2 separate regions of the Homo sapiens genome follow, and region 1 is linked to region 2. A link means that fine-mapping ties the variant in region 2 to the expression of a gene that starts in the linked region. Tissue or cell type: unexposed skin. Region 2 holds a variant in brackets; the other region holds the start of a gene. All regions are shown on one strand. Distances are between the middles of the regions.

The links. PIP is the estimated chance that this variant, and not a neighbour inherited with it, causes the effect.
Region 1: TRIM66 starts here. The variant in region 2 is fine-mapped to the expression of TRIM66 in unexposed skin (GTEx, PIP 0.91).

What each region holds. Positions count from the first base shown.
Region 1 is chr11:8,677,986-8,686,137 of GRCh38, forward strand. It overlaps TRIM66 (tripartite motif containing 66), which reads right to left and starts at 4,680. Exons shown (of 25, transcript NM_001388022.1): 1 at 4,616-4,680; 2 at 1,916-2,078; 3 at 1,635-1,829. It overlaps RPL27A (ribosomal protein L27a), which reads left to right and starts at 4,807. Exons shown (of 5, transcript NM_000990.5): 1 at 4,807-4,831; 2 at 5,217-5,280; 3 at 6,021-6,096; 4 at 6,733-6,907; 5 at 7,693-8,152. The coding sequence starts at 4,829. The coding sequence ends at 7,821. SNORA3A (small nucleolar RNA, H/ACA box 3A) reads left to right here and starts at 6,242; the gene lies at 6,242-6,371. It overlaps SNORA3B (small nucleolar RNA, H/ACA box 3B), which reads left to right and starts at 7,454; the gene lies at 7,454-7,584. RefSeq lists enhancers at 4,237-5,436, 4,300-4,369, 4,570-4,759, 5,086-5,728 and a silencer at 4,880-5,079.
Region 2 is chr11:8,646,280-8,654,476 of GRCh38, forward strand. It overlaps TRIM66 (tripartite motif containing 66), which reads right to left. Exons shown (of 25, transcript NM_001388022.1): 7 at 5,521-5,624; 8 at 3,461-3,608; 9 at 2,137-2,269; 10 at 1,691-1,807; 11 at 168-282. Among named protein-coding and RNA genes, the nearest start is that of TRIM66, 32 kb to the right of the region's middle. The variant C/T (reference allele first, on the strand shown) is at 3,543.

The sequences.
Region 1 (8,152 bases), 32 kb after region 2:
AACTACCGATAAAGGCAAACAAAAACCCCCAAGGCTAGGGAGGTTAAAATGAAACTGGAAACTGTACATATTGCTGGTGAATAAATTGGTACGATCCTTTTGGAAAAAATACATAGTAACATAAAATGAATCACAAAAATGTTCATACCATATAATCCAGCAGTCTCACTTCTGGGAATTTATCCTAGACAAGTTATTCAACAGGAGAAGAAAAAATTATATACAAATGCTCATTCCATCATTGTCTCTAACAGCAAAGAATACAATAAGAATTTTTTAAAAAAACAAAATACACAAGAAAGTGGCTTAATAAAAGATAGCACATGCTGAAAATAAATTATTCTTCAGCTGTTAAAAATAATCATGAAGACTGGGTAGTGATACGAAAAACTGCCATGGTATTAAATAAAAAGAATACAAAAGGATTTGTATACTATGATCACTAACTTTGCAGACAGCTATGTCTCCATGTATACAAGGGTTGAAAGGTAATACTCAGAAAAGAAAATGGCATCACAGGGTGGAATGATTTGAGTTGCTTATACTTATATTTTTTTCAGAATTTTCTTTACTGTTGTACTGTCTATTACGTATAATTTTTCAAGTCTTTCTGAAGTAAATTGGGATTTCTGAGCTTTTCTCTAATTCTCACTTGGAAAAAAAGCAGAAACACTGCTTCTTCCCATCTTGATTAACAGTGCTCTACTTAAAAAAGAAAACGAACATATTTCCAAATGTCCACATCTAAAGATGGAGAGCAAGAAAACAGAGCTGGATTCATTCAGGATGTTGCTGCTATCTGAAGGACTGATGTCGAATTCAGGAACCCAGTGAGGAGAGAAAGGAAGAGGGATCACCAGGGCCTTCTTCAGGGTGATGATGTGTTCCCAAGGCCACCTGGAGAGAGGCCTGGGGCAGCAAAAAATCAGCACACTTGCCTGCCTCACCAGGCTGCTGTCTGGTATCATCTCTTCCGTTCATTTCTGAGGTATTTTCTGAGGCCCTCACACTCTGAGGAAGCCCAGATGCCTGAGATGTCACAAAGCCATGCTGTACTTCAGAAGAGATGTCACAGAGAAGGACACCCCTCAGGAGTCATGGCCAAAGGTCATGTCCCATGTGCCTAGCTGGGAGGGACAGGTCCCCTAATGCCAAATATCTGGCTGCTACTCCACTTTGCAGACAGAAAACTCAGCTTTGTCTGCTCTCTCAGACCTCTGTCAACCTAGGAAAAGTGACACACACTGAACAAACACCACATGAGCTGTGTGTTTAAGTCATGTGGTTGCCTTTTGAAGGAGAGGGAGCTGGATAGAAAACTGGATTGAGCCAGACAACTACCCAGGGTACTCCCTCTACAACCAGATCAAGCCATTGATGAGAAGAATGTTAGGTGAACACAGAACCCAACGGGTAGTGCTGGGTCCACTCTGGGAGGCCTTCTGTTCAGCCGCGTGACCTGAGGGACAGAACGTAGCTCCTCTATAACCAAGGAACCTGGCAAACTATCCAAGAGGAGTGTCTTAGCACCCAGAACCCTACCTCAACCCCTTGCAGTGGTGGTCCTTATTGTAGGCCCCAGCTCTAATACCACTGATGGTTCCCTTTCATTCCCAAGGCCCTGCCCAGCTTACCTCCATTGACAGATCATCTTCCCAAGGTTAGGTTCCAGGTAACCCAGCTCATTTCTTGTGCACTTACTGGCCAGTTTTGATGTCAAATAGACGACGATGTCTTCTTTGATCTCCCCTCCTATTCTCAAGACCCCTCTTCCTGCTGGTCACATGCAGTATGTGATTAAGGTTGATGGAGGGATGAAGACCATAATGCTGTAAGGTCAGAGAGGGACTGGTCACTGAGGTAAAAGCAGGGGATCTGGAGAGAGAAGACTAAAGGCTAGGCCCAGGCTCTGTACCTGACCACCTATGCAGCGTCTGACAAGTCACCCAATTCTTCTGTGCTTCAGTTTTCACACACGTAAAATGAGGCTGGTAGTGCTGTACCTTCAGGCAGATGTATTTTGTAAATTGCCAAGTGCTCTGAAAATGTTGGTTGTTATCCTTGTGGACTGAAGTGTTCTGGGAAGAAGCAGAATATAAAGTTGGCCTTAAAGGTTGAGGAAGATTCAGGACATGTGGTCAGGAAGAGGATGGGCACTCCGGGATGGGAAACAGCATGAGCAAAGGCAAAAATGCAAATGGGATATACCAGGCACGGCTGCAGTAGAAAGCTTGTGTAAGGGAGAGGCTGGGGTAAGGCTGGAAAGGCAAGTGGGCTATATTCTGTTGGTCATAAGGAGCTACCGAACTTTTTGATCAAGTAAAAGAATGAAAGTCATGTTTTCGGAATACTAACGTGGTGGAGGTGTGAAGGATACAGAAATTGGAGGAGGGTTAGAATGCAGGCAGAGTGAACAAAGGAAGGTGTTGTAAACTCCAGTTAAGAGATATGATGGGGGCCTGAATGAAGGCAGGGCACTAAGGCTTAAACAGAGGAAGCACATTGGGGAGATACAGAAACAAAAGGATAGGGTGACAGTGTAGTAGAAGAAGAGAAGGCTTGGGGACAATTTTCATTATCTAGGTGGACAATGGTGCCACTCACCAAGACAGAGAATAAAGGAGAAGGCACCAGTGAGCAGTGCAGATTGAGTTCTTTGGATATGTTTACTTTGTCTGTAGAATGTCCAAGGAATACTAACCAGTAATTAAGTGACCATATGGGTGTGGAGCTCAGCAATAAGGATGTGAATTGAAGCCACCCAAGAAGACCATGTACTGTGAAAAGATAAGGACAAGGACAGAAGGCTGAGGAACATCAACATTCAAATGGTGGACAACGCTGGATGGAAGAACCTGAAAAGAAGACTGAAAAGTGACCAAAGAGTAGGAGGAAGGCAAGACTTTTTCTAGAAAAAGACGCCAACAGATTAAAGTACAACAGAAAGAACAAGTGATATGAAGAATAGGAAGAGTCCAATTTGGCAATTCGTTCATTAATGACATTAGTAAGAGCAATTTCACTGAAGTCACAGGCTGTGAGCTAGACCGCAGTGAACAATGGATGGGAAGGTGCAAATGGGCAGGATTTGTAGACTACTCTTTTGGGGAGCTTGGCTGTAAGGGCAAGGACATGGGAGAATTTTGGAATTTTTTTTTTTTTTTTTGAGACGGAGTCTCGTTCTGTCGCCCAGGCTGCAGTGCAGTGGCGCGATCTCGGTTCACTACAAGCTCCGCCTCCCGGGTTCACGCCATTCTCCTGCCTCAGCCTCCCGAGTAGCTGGGACTACAGGCGCCCACCACCACGCCCATCTAATTTTTTGTATTTTTAGTAGAGACGGGGTTTCACCGTGTTAGCCAGGATGGTCTCGATCTCCTGACCTCGTGATCCGCCCGCCTCGGCCTTCCAAAGTGCTGGGATTACAGAAGTAAGCCACCACGCCCGGCCAGAATTTTGGATATTTTAGCTAAAATATATTTTAGCTGAAGGGGGCAAGACAAAGAAAAATAAATAAATACACGCTCACACATACACACAGAGAATAACTGAGGGGATGGGATTTTAAAAATTTATTTCATTTTTCCCATGGGATCTATTAATAGACTAGCGAGGGGATGGGATCTTGAACACTGGTTGAAGGAACCGACTTAAGAGCGAAGACATGCTGCTATTAGCGAAGACAGGGAGGTGAGGGTAAGTTCATTTATTCACTCAACAATCACTAGTTGAGTGTGGATTAAAAAAAACAGTCCTTGACCACATAAGGAATTAGGTCTAGTAGGGAAGACAAACGTAGGTCAATAAATTACATAAGGGTTATACTAGATTGTGTGGTGGTACAGGTGGGGAAGCGAGCAACTGTCTGCATTGTGTCCAGGAAAGGGTCACAGGCGTGTTATGTAGATTCTGGAGAAAATTCAAAAATAGCATTTATTTTTACTTATTTACTTTTGTATGTGGAGACGAGGGTCTCACTATGTTGCCCAGGCTGGTGTTGAACTACTCGCCTCAAGAAATCCTCCCGCCTCGACCTCCCAAAGTGTTGGGACTACAGGTGTGAGCCACCGCGCCTGGCCTAAATGTGGCATTTAGAAAAAGTATTTACAACATCTGCATTAAAAGGACCATAAAGCAACCAGGCATCTAAGTCCCTGAAGCAATTTAAGTTGCTCAAACTTGAGAGGACAACCAAATGATAGCAAAAGGGCAAAAGAGAAAGGAAGCTGCAGTGCCCACTCAGAAGTGTGAGAGCGGGAGAAGGCATTTCGGGAGCCGCCCGAGCTTCAGGAAACCGAGCGAGACACCAGGTGGGCACACTGAGGATTAAAGAGGGCCTCGCGGTTCCGCACTGCGGCCGGGAGACAAACCAGTAGCCACTATCACCAGCCCCGGGCAGACCACTAAGAACTGTGGAGGTGCGCGGGGCGGCTCAGGGCTGGCGCATTTGGTGAGGAGCTCAGACAACGAGGCCCTTAGGGTCGGCTTAGGCGGTTCCCTGACCAAGGCGCCAGAAAAGGGCCTGGCTCAAGCAAGCACGGGCGGCGTGCAGTACAGCACACCTAGCCCCGATTCTTCAACAGTTCTCGCCCTCCGAGCCTAGCACAACGAGCCTCACCGAAACCGTACACCGCCACCAGGACACTCCGTGATGGGGGATCACCACCCTCAGAAAGAGGAAGCGACTAGCAGGCGCGCAATCCCGCGAGACCAGGAGGCCCCGCCCGAAGCCCGGCCTCTGTGACCGGAAGTGAGGCGTTTTGCCCCGCCCCCGTGGCCGATACCTCGCGAGACTTGGCGAAGGCCTTCCTTTTTCGTCTGGGCTGCCAACATGGTAGGTGTTTCGTTTCTTGCCTCCTCTTCCTTGCCGGCGGAGACCCCTAAGCTGTATTCCCATTGCCCCTAGTCATCCACTCCCTACCATGGTCGGGGCTTCCAGGCTGCGCATGGCCGCCTGCGGGGCAGGGTGGCCGGCGCGGGCCCGGGGCGGGGCTCCCGGAGCCGTGTGTTAGGCCCGCGGTTCGGATCTCTAGGACACGCGGGCCCCTGCGCTACCGTGGTGAGACCTCACGGCCCTGAGCGGATCGGTACCCTCAGCTTTCCCAAACGCTCCAGAAGTTAGGTCTTTGACCCACAGGCTTACAGGACCATCTCGGCTGGCGGGCATCGCCCCCTGCCCCTAATTCCTTAGGCCTTACCACCAAGCTTTTTCCACACAGCCATCCAGACTGAGGAAGACCCGGAAACTTAGGGGCCACGTGAGCCACGGCCACGGCCGCATAGGTAAGTGCCGGCTTCCCCTCGGGGTGGGCCTTGGGCTCTCTTCGGGTGCTTAGCTAGTCTGGAGATCGGTAGCCTATAAGTGGGTTAGAATAAGACCTTTTTGTGGTCAAGTTGCACAGCTGTTGATTTTTTTCTGACGATCCTCTAGTATTCCAGTTCTAAGGAATTTCACATCAGTGGGGTAATAGGAATTGAGCAGGCACGGTATTGGGTTAGTTGAAGACATGGAGTACTGTGGGAATGCTGTGATGTGGAACCTGAAAAGATGTTTCACCCGGAATCCTAAAGTAATCGCATTGCTGAAAACCGGCATCGGTAGGGTGGGAACAGCGTAAGCGGGACACAGAAGTCTGGGAAACACTCTGCTTTTGTGCGAGGAAGTATTGAGATGCATGAGAAGGCTGTGTGGTGCATGTAGCTTTTTTGTGTGTGTGTGAGACTGATCACTGTCGCCCAGGCTGGAGTGCAGTGGCGAAATCTCGGCTCACTGCAACCCCTGCCTGCCGGGCTCAAGCGATTCTCCTGCCTCAGCCTCCCGAGTAGCTGATATTACAGGTGTGCGCCACGACGCCCGGCTAATTCTTTTTCTATTTTTAGTAGAGTCGGGGGTTTCTCCGTGTTGGCCAGGCTGGTCTCGAACTCCTGACCTCAGGTGATCTACCCCCCCTCGTCCTCCTAAAATGCTGGGATTACAGGCATGAGCCATCACACCGGCCCCACGTAGCTTTGTATTCCTGCAGGCAAGCACCGGAAGCACCCCGGCGGCCGCGGTAATGCTGGTGGTCTGCATCACCACCGGATCAACTTCGACAAATAGTAAGTGTCCTTGGACTGCTTTTATTGACACAGCTTGGGAGGTAGGGGCAGAGAGAGGGCTGGCTTAAACAAAAAGTTTAGAAGCAAGCCTTGCCTATTGCTGTTTTTTACCAAGTTAACACTTGGTGTGAACTGAGAACCTGTCATCGAGGCTAGAGTCACGCTTGGGTATCGGCTATTGCCTGAGTGTGCTAGAGTCCTCGAAGAGTAACTGCTGACCTTATTCACTGGCTGTGGGCCTTATGGCACAGTCAGTCACCAGGTTAGAGACATGCTTCACATTCACCTACCCACAAACTAGTGGATGATAAATTTTGGCTATTCAGAAGACGTTTATTATAGGAGTATGTAGATTTTCCATAGAGTGCTGTTATGTGACTTGAATTTTAGTCTCGGCCCTGCCTCTGACATTGTCGGTGGTTTATCCTGGTTCCAGGAAATAAGACTAGCCTTTTCCTCATGATAGTCTTTGGTGGTTTTTAAAACAGTTGTTTAAGTCAACAGATGTATCATATGCCTGACACTGCTCTACACCAGTGAATAATTTACACTCTAATAGGGGGTGGTAACTATAAAGATGATAAACATAGCATCTTAATTGGAGTGTGTATGAAGGTGGTTGTTACCTCTTCCTAGCCACCCAGGCTACTTTGGGAAAGTTGGTATGAAGCATTACCACTTAAAGAGGAACCAGAGCTTCTGCCCAACTGTCAACCTTGACAAATTGTGGACTTTGGTCAGTGAACAGACACGGGTGAATGCTGCTAAAAACAAGACTGGGGCTGCTCCCATCATTGATGTGGTGCGATCGGTAAGTTAATTGGATGTTTTTCTGTACTTCCATACCTTCCCTTACAAAACTCTGGCTTAATCTAATCCACTTATATAATCTGTACTTCCCAGTTACCTACCAGACATTGATATTCTTCCTGTGGTAGAATTATCATAGGTAGTTCCCTATCCGTAGCAGTGCCTACTGTCACTGCCCAGGTTGTATCAGGTTTGCATTTCGTGCTTGAACTATAGCTGGTTTTCACTGAGCACAGCTCTTGGCCCTTCATGTTCTCCAGATAATAGAATCCTAATATGTTCCATTGATACTCAGTGCCATGCATTATCTGAAGAGATTTTCCCCCAAAACAGATGTATTATGTCTGTCCTTGCGGGGGTTCTGGTCCCTGTGTCAGTCTTAACTCTCATGAATATAGAGGTAGTGTTAAGAGGCCAGAACCCTAGGGACGCTTTAAATTCACTTCCCAGCCTATTTAATGTCCATTGAGTAGTTCTGGTGGTCAGGAAGGTGGTTGTCTTCTTTTGCTTAGCAGGGGGTATTTGAGCAGGAGGAGGCTTATGCTTTGCCGAGACTAGAGTCACATCCTGACACAACTCTTGTCCTGGTGTGCTAGAGTACTCGAAGAGAATCTACTGGTCTTGATTCACTGGTGGGGGCAGTCGGTGCCCCCGTTAGTGCCCAGATCAGAAACATACATACCCTGCCTAGGGATTTAGAAAGTGGGTTGGCAGTCTTTCCTCACGCCCATCACGCAGTTGGTACCTACTACAGTGTATTGTAAACTTTTTTCTCTGTTCTTCTAGGGCTACTACAAAGTTCTGGGAAAGGGAAAGCTCCCAAAGCAGCCTGTCATCGTGAAGGCCAAATTCTTCAGCAGAAGAGCTGAGGAGAAGATTAAGAGTGTTGGGGGGGCCTGTGTCCTGGTGGCTTGAAGCCACATGGAGGGAGTTTCATTAAATGCTAACTACTTTTTCCTTGTGGTGTGAGTGTAGGTTCTTCAGTGGCACCTCTACATCCTGTGTGCATTGGGAGCCCAGGTTCTAGTACTTAGGGTATGAAGACATGGGGTCCTCTCCTGACTTCCCTCAAATATATGGTAAACGTAAGACCAACACAGACGTTGGCCAGTTAAACATTTCTGTTTATAAAGTCAGAATAATACCTGTTGATCACTGAAAGGCCTGCATGTATTGTACTCTGAATTTTACAGTGAATGAGAGAATGTACCCTAATTGTTCAACAGGGCTCAAAAGGAAAGATTCC
Region 2 (8,197 bases):
GAGCCACCCTCCCAAAATTAGGCTGACATTTTAAAATACAGGGAGCAGCACAGAGCTATGGAAGCTGCATATCTGAATTACAGCCTAGGCTTCCCTAGGTCCTGGGACTAGCTTGATATATGGATGGTTTCTGAACCCAACCATCTGATCCATCTGTCTATACATACCTCTAATTCCTCTATTAGCCCATTGGCCTGTTTGTTCAGCTCATTCATCAGAACCATCTTGGCCATTTTGATCTGGTTTTCCACCTTCCTATGCTGATGCTTCACTTCAAAAATCCTGTAAACACAATGGGACAAACCATGGTAAGCTTTCCTCATGGACTATATGAAGACGAAGAGACAGCAAACATAAGAACCAACTTGGAGGCTGCCTACTGAGATCAGGGCCTAGCAGACACCAAATACAAAAAAAAGAGAGCCTTCCTCCACCATCCCACCTTTTGTACAAAGCCCCACTTGATCAAAGTTCAGCTTGGTTTTCTCTAGGTAAACCTCAAGTCTACACCAAGGTCAACCCAGTAGCCCACCAGTTGACACAGCACTAGAGGTAGGACCAAAAGAGAAAGTATGGGAATAATTTACTGTAATTTGTTGTGTTTAAAAGGAGGATGCTCCAATAAATGTCGCCATGAGGTAAAAAGAGGCAGAATGCATACTGCCTCAGTAGTTTCTGAGGGCCGGGGGGTGTTGGGGGAATGGAGAGTGACTAATAATGTTTATATTATTGGCATAATAACATATTATATAATAAACATATTATATAATAAACAATAATAAACATATAATTATATAATAAACAATAAACATATAATATAATGTTTATTATAAACATATAATAATGTTTATATTAATGTGGCTTCTTTTTGGGGGGATGAAAATGTTTTAAACGTAGACAGTAATTATGTACAGTTGCACAATTCTGTGAATATACTAAAGGCCACTGAATTATACATTTAAAAAGAATAATTTTATGATACGTAGATTATATCTCAGTAAAGCTATTTTTAAAAATTTAAAAAGCATGGGCATTGAAGTCACCACAGACCTACCATCTAAACCCAGCACAGTCACTGGCTAGTTGTGTGATCTCAGATGAGTTACCAAACCTCTATGAACCTCAGTCTCCTCATCAGTAAAATGGAGAAAATCGCTAACTGAAAGAATGGCAAGAACTGAACAAAATAATGCATATATGATACCCAACCCAGTGCCTGACACATGAGGTGCTCTCAGCACCTACCACTTCCTCTTCCTATGTAAAATACCAATGATTTCATGTGACTTGTAGATTTACAGAGAACACACAGGGAAAGGGGTGATAAAGCACAGATTGCCCCTGGTTTGTTCCACCCTCATAATAAGCAGCACTCTCTTCCCTAGTGTCTGCTTGGTACCCTTGTTCTCAAGCACCGACTTCTGGCTAGTTCATAAGGCATATTCTTTGACCCAGACTCACTCTGATCATCCTGACCTAGCTTGGTCTCAGCCACCAAGGGATGACTTAATGACCCCTCCCTGGCCCTGAGACCTCAAAGGCCAAGACATATGCCTTCTAGGACATATGCCCACATCTGCTTAACCACAGTTCCTCTTCACAGGCACTACATCTGACGGCCTGGTGTTGGAACCCTGGGTGTGCGGGAACAGAGCATTTCCAGCACTGGCAAGGCACTAGCCTGTGCTACCTGTCCTCAATTTGCTTTGCAGATGTCTGTAGACTGGATTTCTTATGTGCCACCTGTGTAGTCACACCTTCCAGAAGCATCCTCTGGTTTTGCAAAACTTCTTCAACATGTCTGCACCTAGGGGATGAGGCAGAGAAAAAGCTGAGAAGGGCTGAGTCCTACTTTGAGCATGCCAACCAAGCGGGAATCTCCACAGGGAACTGTCTCAGCCAGACCCATGGAAGCTGTGATGACTTCTAGGGAAAGTCTAAGGCACCACAGGCTCTTGGCCCATTAGGCCTTTTCCAGGGAAGTCCTACAACAGGAGCAGAGAAAAACTTCAGCCCAGGGGCTGCAGGTTGGCTTGGGCAGGGAGAAGATTCTGATGCACGGGGATTCCCAGAGCTCTCACAAGTAAGAAATCCAGAGCCCTCCCCAGCCCATTTCAGGCAGTCTGTCAGCCCCACCTGTGTTCTTTGTGTTCCACCACTAGGCAGCTATGGCAAGTGAGCATATCACATGTCTCACAGAATAGCTTGAGTACTTCCTGTGTGTGTAGAGGACAATACAAGGTGAAGTCTCCGGGACCACCATTCACTCCTGCCAGAGAAGACAGAGAAAGTGAGCTTCTCTTGCTCAGGTAGACAAACCTCTCAGTTAAGCTTTGCTGCACAGCTCTCAGCCTTCAGAGGACACTGCAGAAATACAGAGCTCGGGGGAAGTGTTATAAACAGGAGATGACTCTCCAGGGGCACAAGGAGGATTTTGGGCTGAGCTTGGCTGGATTTGCCCAGTTGTCCAGAAATAGCACACCATCAAGCCCAAGCATCCCACTACCTGCCAGAGGCTGAGGAAGGCGCTTGCTACTACTCCACATAGATCTCCTGCAAAATAATGAATCCTTCACAATTAACCTTAACCTGTTCATTAATCAGGATTCTGTTTTTAATGGAGCTGAAACCAGCTATCCAGCCTTGCCAGGCTCCAGGCTAGATCACGTGGATCATGAACTCTGGTTCCTGTGGATTTGACAGTTGTAGAACCCCTCCCACAATTCAAGGGCCTTGAGAAAAGACTTTCAAGAAGATTGTCATTTAAAACAGATGGTGGCTGGGCGCAGTGGCTCACGCCTGTAATCGCAGCACTTTGGGAGGCCAAGGTGGGCGGATCACCTGAGGTCAGGGGTTCAAGACCAGCCTGGCCAACATGGCGAAACCCCATCTCTACTAAAACTACAAACATTAGCTGGGCGCGGTGGCGCATGCCTGTAATCCCAGCTACTTGGGAGGCTGAAGCAGGAGAATCGCTTGAACCCAGGAGGTGGAGGTTGTAGTGAGCCGAGATCATGCCACCGCACCCCAGCCTGGGTGACAGAGTGAGACTCCATCTCAAAAAAAAATAAAAATAAAAATAAAAATAAAACAGATGGTGCTGGGTAGACAAACAAACAAGCCCTAATCCAGACTAAGTTAATCAAGTAAATAAATTAGAAGGGTAACATGATTACTCTAGAGGGGAAAGGCAGGGAGCTCAGCCAGCTTCCACAATAATTCAACACTTTCCTCTCTATACCATTTCATCCACACTCATCCACCCCCACCATCAACAGGGAGGGACGAGAGTGAGTCACCCCTTTGACTCTGAAGGAGACTTCCTTTGGGAAAGGCTCTGAGACTGTCCCTACCTTCTCCCCCAGCAAGAAAACAAGATCGGAGAGCTATTCTCCAGGGATCTTAGGGTTCAGCCCTGCTTTAGGGCATGGGAGTGGGCAGGGAGAGGTGGGATTGGTACCTGGAGATCCCTTCTGGGCCCGAGGAAAGAATGGGCCCCCGGGGACAGGGCTGTGTCGGTGTTCCTCTGTGCAAGAGCTGCA[C/T]AGCCAGCGATTGCAGTAGGTGCAGAGGATATGTGCTGCCCTCTTCTCCTTGCACTCAGAGCAGTTCTGGAAGCAGAGAGTTCTGGAGTTACTGATGTTATCCTCATTTGTGTCTGCCTCCACAAGTGGTAAATGCTCTAAAGACAGGGGTCCTGCAGGCCTATTCCTCCACCAGTTTGGAGTGTAACCTATTCTGCAGAGCTGTCTGGGAGTAACATGCCGGGGCTTGTGGAAGGAAGCATCCTTTGTAACCAAAAGAACAGTGGCTACTTCAGGTATGGTGGCTCACACCTGTAACCCCAGTACTTTGGGAGGCCAAGGCAGGAGGAGTGCTTGAGCCCAGGAGTTTCAGACTAGCCTGGGCAACATAGTGAGACCCCATCTCTACAAAAAATACAAAAATTAGCCGGGAGTGGTGGCACATGCCTGTAGTCCCAGCTACTAGGGAGACTGAGGTGGGAAGATCGCTTGAGCTCAGGAGGTCAAGGCTGCAGTGAGCCAAGATCGTACCACTACACTCCAGCCTGGGCAACAGAGGAAGACCCTGTCTCAAAAAAGGATGAGGAAGAAGGCAAAGGAGAAGGAAGAAGAAGGAGGAGGAGGAAGAGGAGGAGAGGAGGAGGGGAAGGAGCAGAAGGAAAAGGAGGAAGGGAAGGAGGAAGGGAAGGAGGGAGGGAGGGAGGGAGGAGGAGGAGGAGCAGCAGCAGCAGCTGTCTCAGGGGCTGTTCACACAAGTCCTGTGCTGAAGCTAAGGACACCCAGATGCGTAAGCCAAGGATCTGATCTCATGCTATCCACAGCACACAGGATGGTACACATTAACTGAGTAATGCTGTAATTAAAAGGATGCAACACATGCTAAGGAAGCAAAGGAAGCCTTCCTGGAACTCAGTCTAGGAGTGGCTAGGAAAGGTTTTACAAAAAGGAAACACTTGAGCTGGATACTGAATGACAAGTAGGTTCACCAGGCAGATAAGGGAGGAAAATGTTGTAACAGAGGGAAAGCACTGGCAAAAGCAGGAAATTCAATGTGCTTCAGAGAGGAGAAAGCCCACATATGGGAGTACACAGCAAGATGGTCAAATGCAACCAAGGAAGGGCAAGTATAGACCAGCGTTCAGAGTTGTGCTCCCACACCTGGGCTCTGCCTGATCTGAGGGTACCTAGGCCTCTCCTAGTCCAAATGTTCATTCATTTCGTAAGCAAATATCTTGCCCGGGCTATTATAAAACATCAAGAGAAGGGGAGATTTGGAAAAGTTGGCCTATCTGTGTCTGAATCACAGAGGCCACCAAACTGATGTGAATTCTGAAAGTTCTACTAATTAAACTATGAATTCCTTGAATGTAGAGTATATGGGTCGATCTCCCTAATATCCAGCACAGGGTCTGGCACATGTGAGACATTCAACACAAATCAGATACAGGAACAAGTAAGTAAATTAGTAAATTACTAATTTACTAATTTACCCTAGTGGAAAGAGGAACAGAAGGGCTGCCGGCCAATAAGTGATAAAAATTTCCTTAAGAAACTCAGGAAAAAGGTGATAGTTGTTAAATACAGGCAAGGTTAATAAACCCATTTAATCCAGGCTGGTACATGAATTTCAACTCAGGATGATTAAAAAAATAAAACAAAAGCCCAGTACTGGTATTTTTCAGCAAGAGCTGTAAGAGAGAGAAAAATAATTATATAGACAGTAAGCAACTCTTAATATATCTTAACTTACATTCACCTTCTGCTAAAGGGATTGACACAAAAAAAAGTCAATAATTTTCACTTAATAGAAAACCCCCTCATTGTTTCCCCCAACTCATGCATTTTTATTTTCTTCTAGATGGATGGATGGATGATTAGGAAAACTGATGGAGAAGTAACAAATCAGATGATAGAGTGATGGATGGATAGAAGACTTATGGACAGGGGCCTCACAGATTTCTGAAAAAGATCAGCTGCTTCTTTCCTTGTCCTGACTTACCCTGGCCATCTTGGGTTGCTCAGTAGGAACACAATGCAGAAAAAAATGTTCAGTTACATCCCTGGTAAGATATACTCGTTCACACCCAGGACAGGAGATGAGCTCTGTGCAAGAAAGAAAGATAGCAGAGTCAGGGCAACATGGCTGATTATAACTAAGGCCTGGACATAAGGCTTTCTAATACACAACACCAAGATACATGGCAATACCCATGTGTGCCAAAATGAACTACACTTGATGCCATAGCCTGCATTTAGTATGTGGGTACCCTGAACATGACCATCCCATTGGGGCCTTCCCTACAGACCATCTGGTCTCCTCACATTCTTGTCTTTACCTGGTCCTACCTTCCTCCCTGCCCCATAAACCATGCTACTACAGGCCCAACGCTGCTTTGGTTCTGACAATCAGGTGCCTTCTTGCTGCTCCCATTCCTCATTCCACATCCCTGAGAGCACAGCTCCCATCACTAGCCAAGATCCAGAGTCAGTTTAGTCTGGGCACAGTTCCAGGTCATTAAGGTTACCACATAGCAGGATGACTTGGAAGATCTCGAAGCTAAAGCCTCCAGAAGGCTTTAGTCAGAGAAAGGCAAGGCCTCCCTGCCCGCTCATCTAGGAGGTATTTTTCTCTTAGTACAGCATATACCAGTCAGTCTGCCTCTGAGGCTCAGAGGTCTTTTGGAGGGCTCTCTCCCCATAGACCAAGTTAGATGCATCATATATATGTATATTTTACCTATGAACAGCTTGACCTACAATCTCTCCCCAGAGAAATACATCAGTCTCTAACATATTCTTCAGCATAGTGGGCTTCTGGACTATAAAAGCAGCAGAAGACTCCCACCCTGGAGACCACAGTGATTCTGCCGGCCCACCGCAAGGGCAGTCAACCTACTAGGAACAAGAAAATGAGCCTCTGGAGTAGGGCAAGGTACCTGTGTCCAGGGATGAGGGTGATCTGGAAAGGGGTTGGCTATGGCAGTGAATGCAGCAGTACCGCTACAATCTCCTCTGTCTCATCTCTTCAAAATACGAAAGAATGATATGATGGCAGTTGCTCCAGACTTATAGTCAGACAAATGTAAGTCCAAAATACCAGGCCTACCAGCCAATGACCTTGGGCAAAACACTTAATCTCACTTAATTGCCCTGTACCCCAGTTTCTTCATATGTAAAATAGGGAAAATAAGAGTTGCTGTGCACATTAAATTAGATAAGACTTCAGAAATCACATGGTCCTCCATGAATGTCAACTTTGGAGTTCAAAAGATTCCTCATATCCTATTCACAGTAATGCAATAAACTCAATTACCAACTCTCTGGTGACGAAAGTTAGTTTGAGTGGTAGATTCAAAAAATGGCCACAAATTCTTCCCCTCCCTGCATCCATACCCTTGCAATCCTACCATCAAAAGGTAAGACTCTCCACGAGCTTCAGGTCAGTGATGAGTTTTTAATTTTTAAAAGAGGTAGGACCCTTTGCCCTTTGAATCTAAGCTCACCTTGTGACTTTCTTTGGCCAACAGAATGCAGCAAAAGTGACAAGTTTTCCAAGCCTAGACCTCAGTGGCCTTATATAATTCTGCTCTTGTTCTTAGAACTTTAAGAGTGCCATGTGAAAAATCTAACCTGGCATTGAGACTGCTGGAAGATGAGAGATCATGCAGAGAAAGTTCTCAGTTGTCTCAGGCATCCCACCTGAGGCCATCATAGACCAGCCAGCCCCAACTAACCCACTAGCTGAATACAGTGCAAGAGTGAACACAGTTATAATTAGCTAAGCCCAGGCCAAACCAGAAGAATTACCCAGAGAATCCCAGCCCAAACAGCCAAACTGTAGAATCATAAAATAAATAAAGTTTAGTTGTTTTAAGCACAAAGTTTAGAGGTGGCTTGTTATGCAGTAAAAGCTAACTGATACATCCCAGGAAAATAGAAATCCACAAAATCATGAAAAATAATAGTTTAATACTCCCTCACCCCACCAAAAAAAAAAAGAAAAGAAAAGAAAAGAAAAACTTTCTGAGTTTTTGCAGAGCCATGGGTGTTAATGACAGGACTGTATCTGGAATGTCCTGCATATTCTCCTGCCTGTCAAGAACAATGGCCAGAGGTGGAGAAGGATGCTCTCCACAGGTGACATCATCCAGGGGAATAAGGCTACTGTCCCTCTCTTCCACTTGGCTCACCCTGAGGTGACCTCCTCATCTACAGCAGGACAGAAATGCTGCTCTAATTGTTGAAAACGACTTCCACAAGACATCCCGGGTACCAGATGCCCAAACATCAGTCATTGTAACATGGCCTCACGAGCAGAATGAAAAAAGAGAAAGAACTGAATAGGTCAAACAAGGCCTCATCACACATCCTCTGCTCCCTTGGCCTTAAAGCCAAAGTCCTCAGCTTGGCATTCAATGCCCCTTGTAAATTGACCTTATCTCTCTCTAATCTCATCTTTAGCTTTGCCTAACATACAACCTGTGTTTTTGCCATGCCCAACATCTCTGCTATCTCTTGAATACACCAGACTTTTGCATGACTCTGTGTCTGTGAAAAATGCTGTTTCCTCTTCCTGAAATACTCTTTCTTGCCCCTCTCCTTTTCAGATAAACTCCTATTCATCCTTTCATACCTGTTCAAATGTTCCACCTTTGAGCAGCAAGATCAATTTCCCC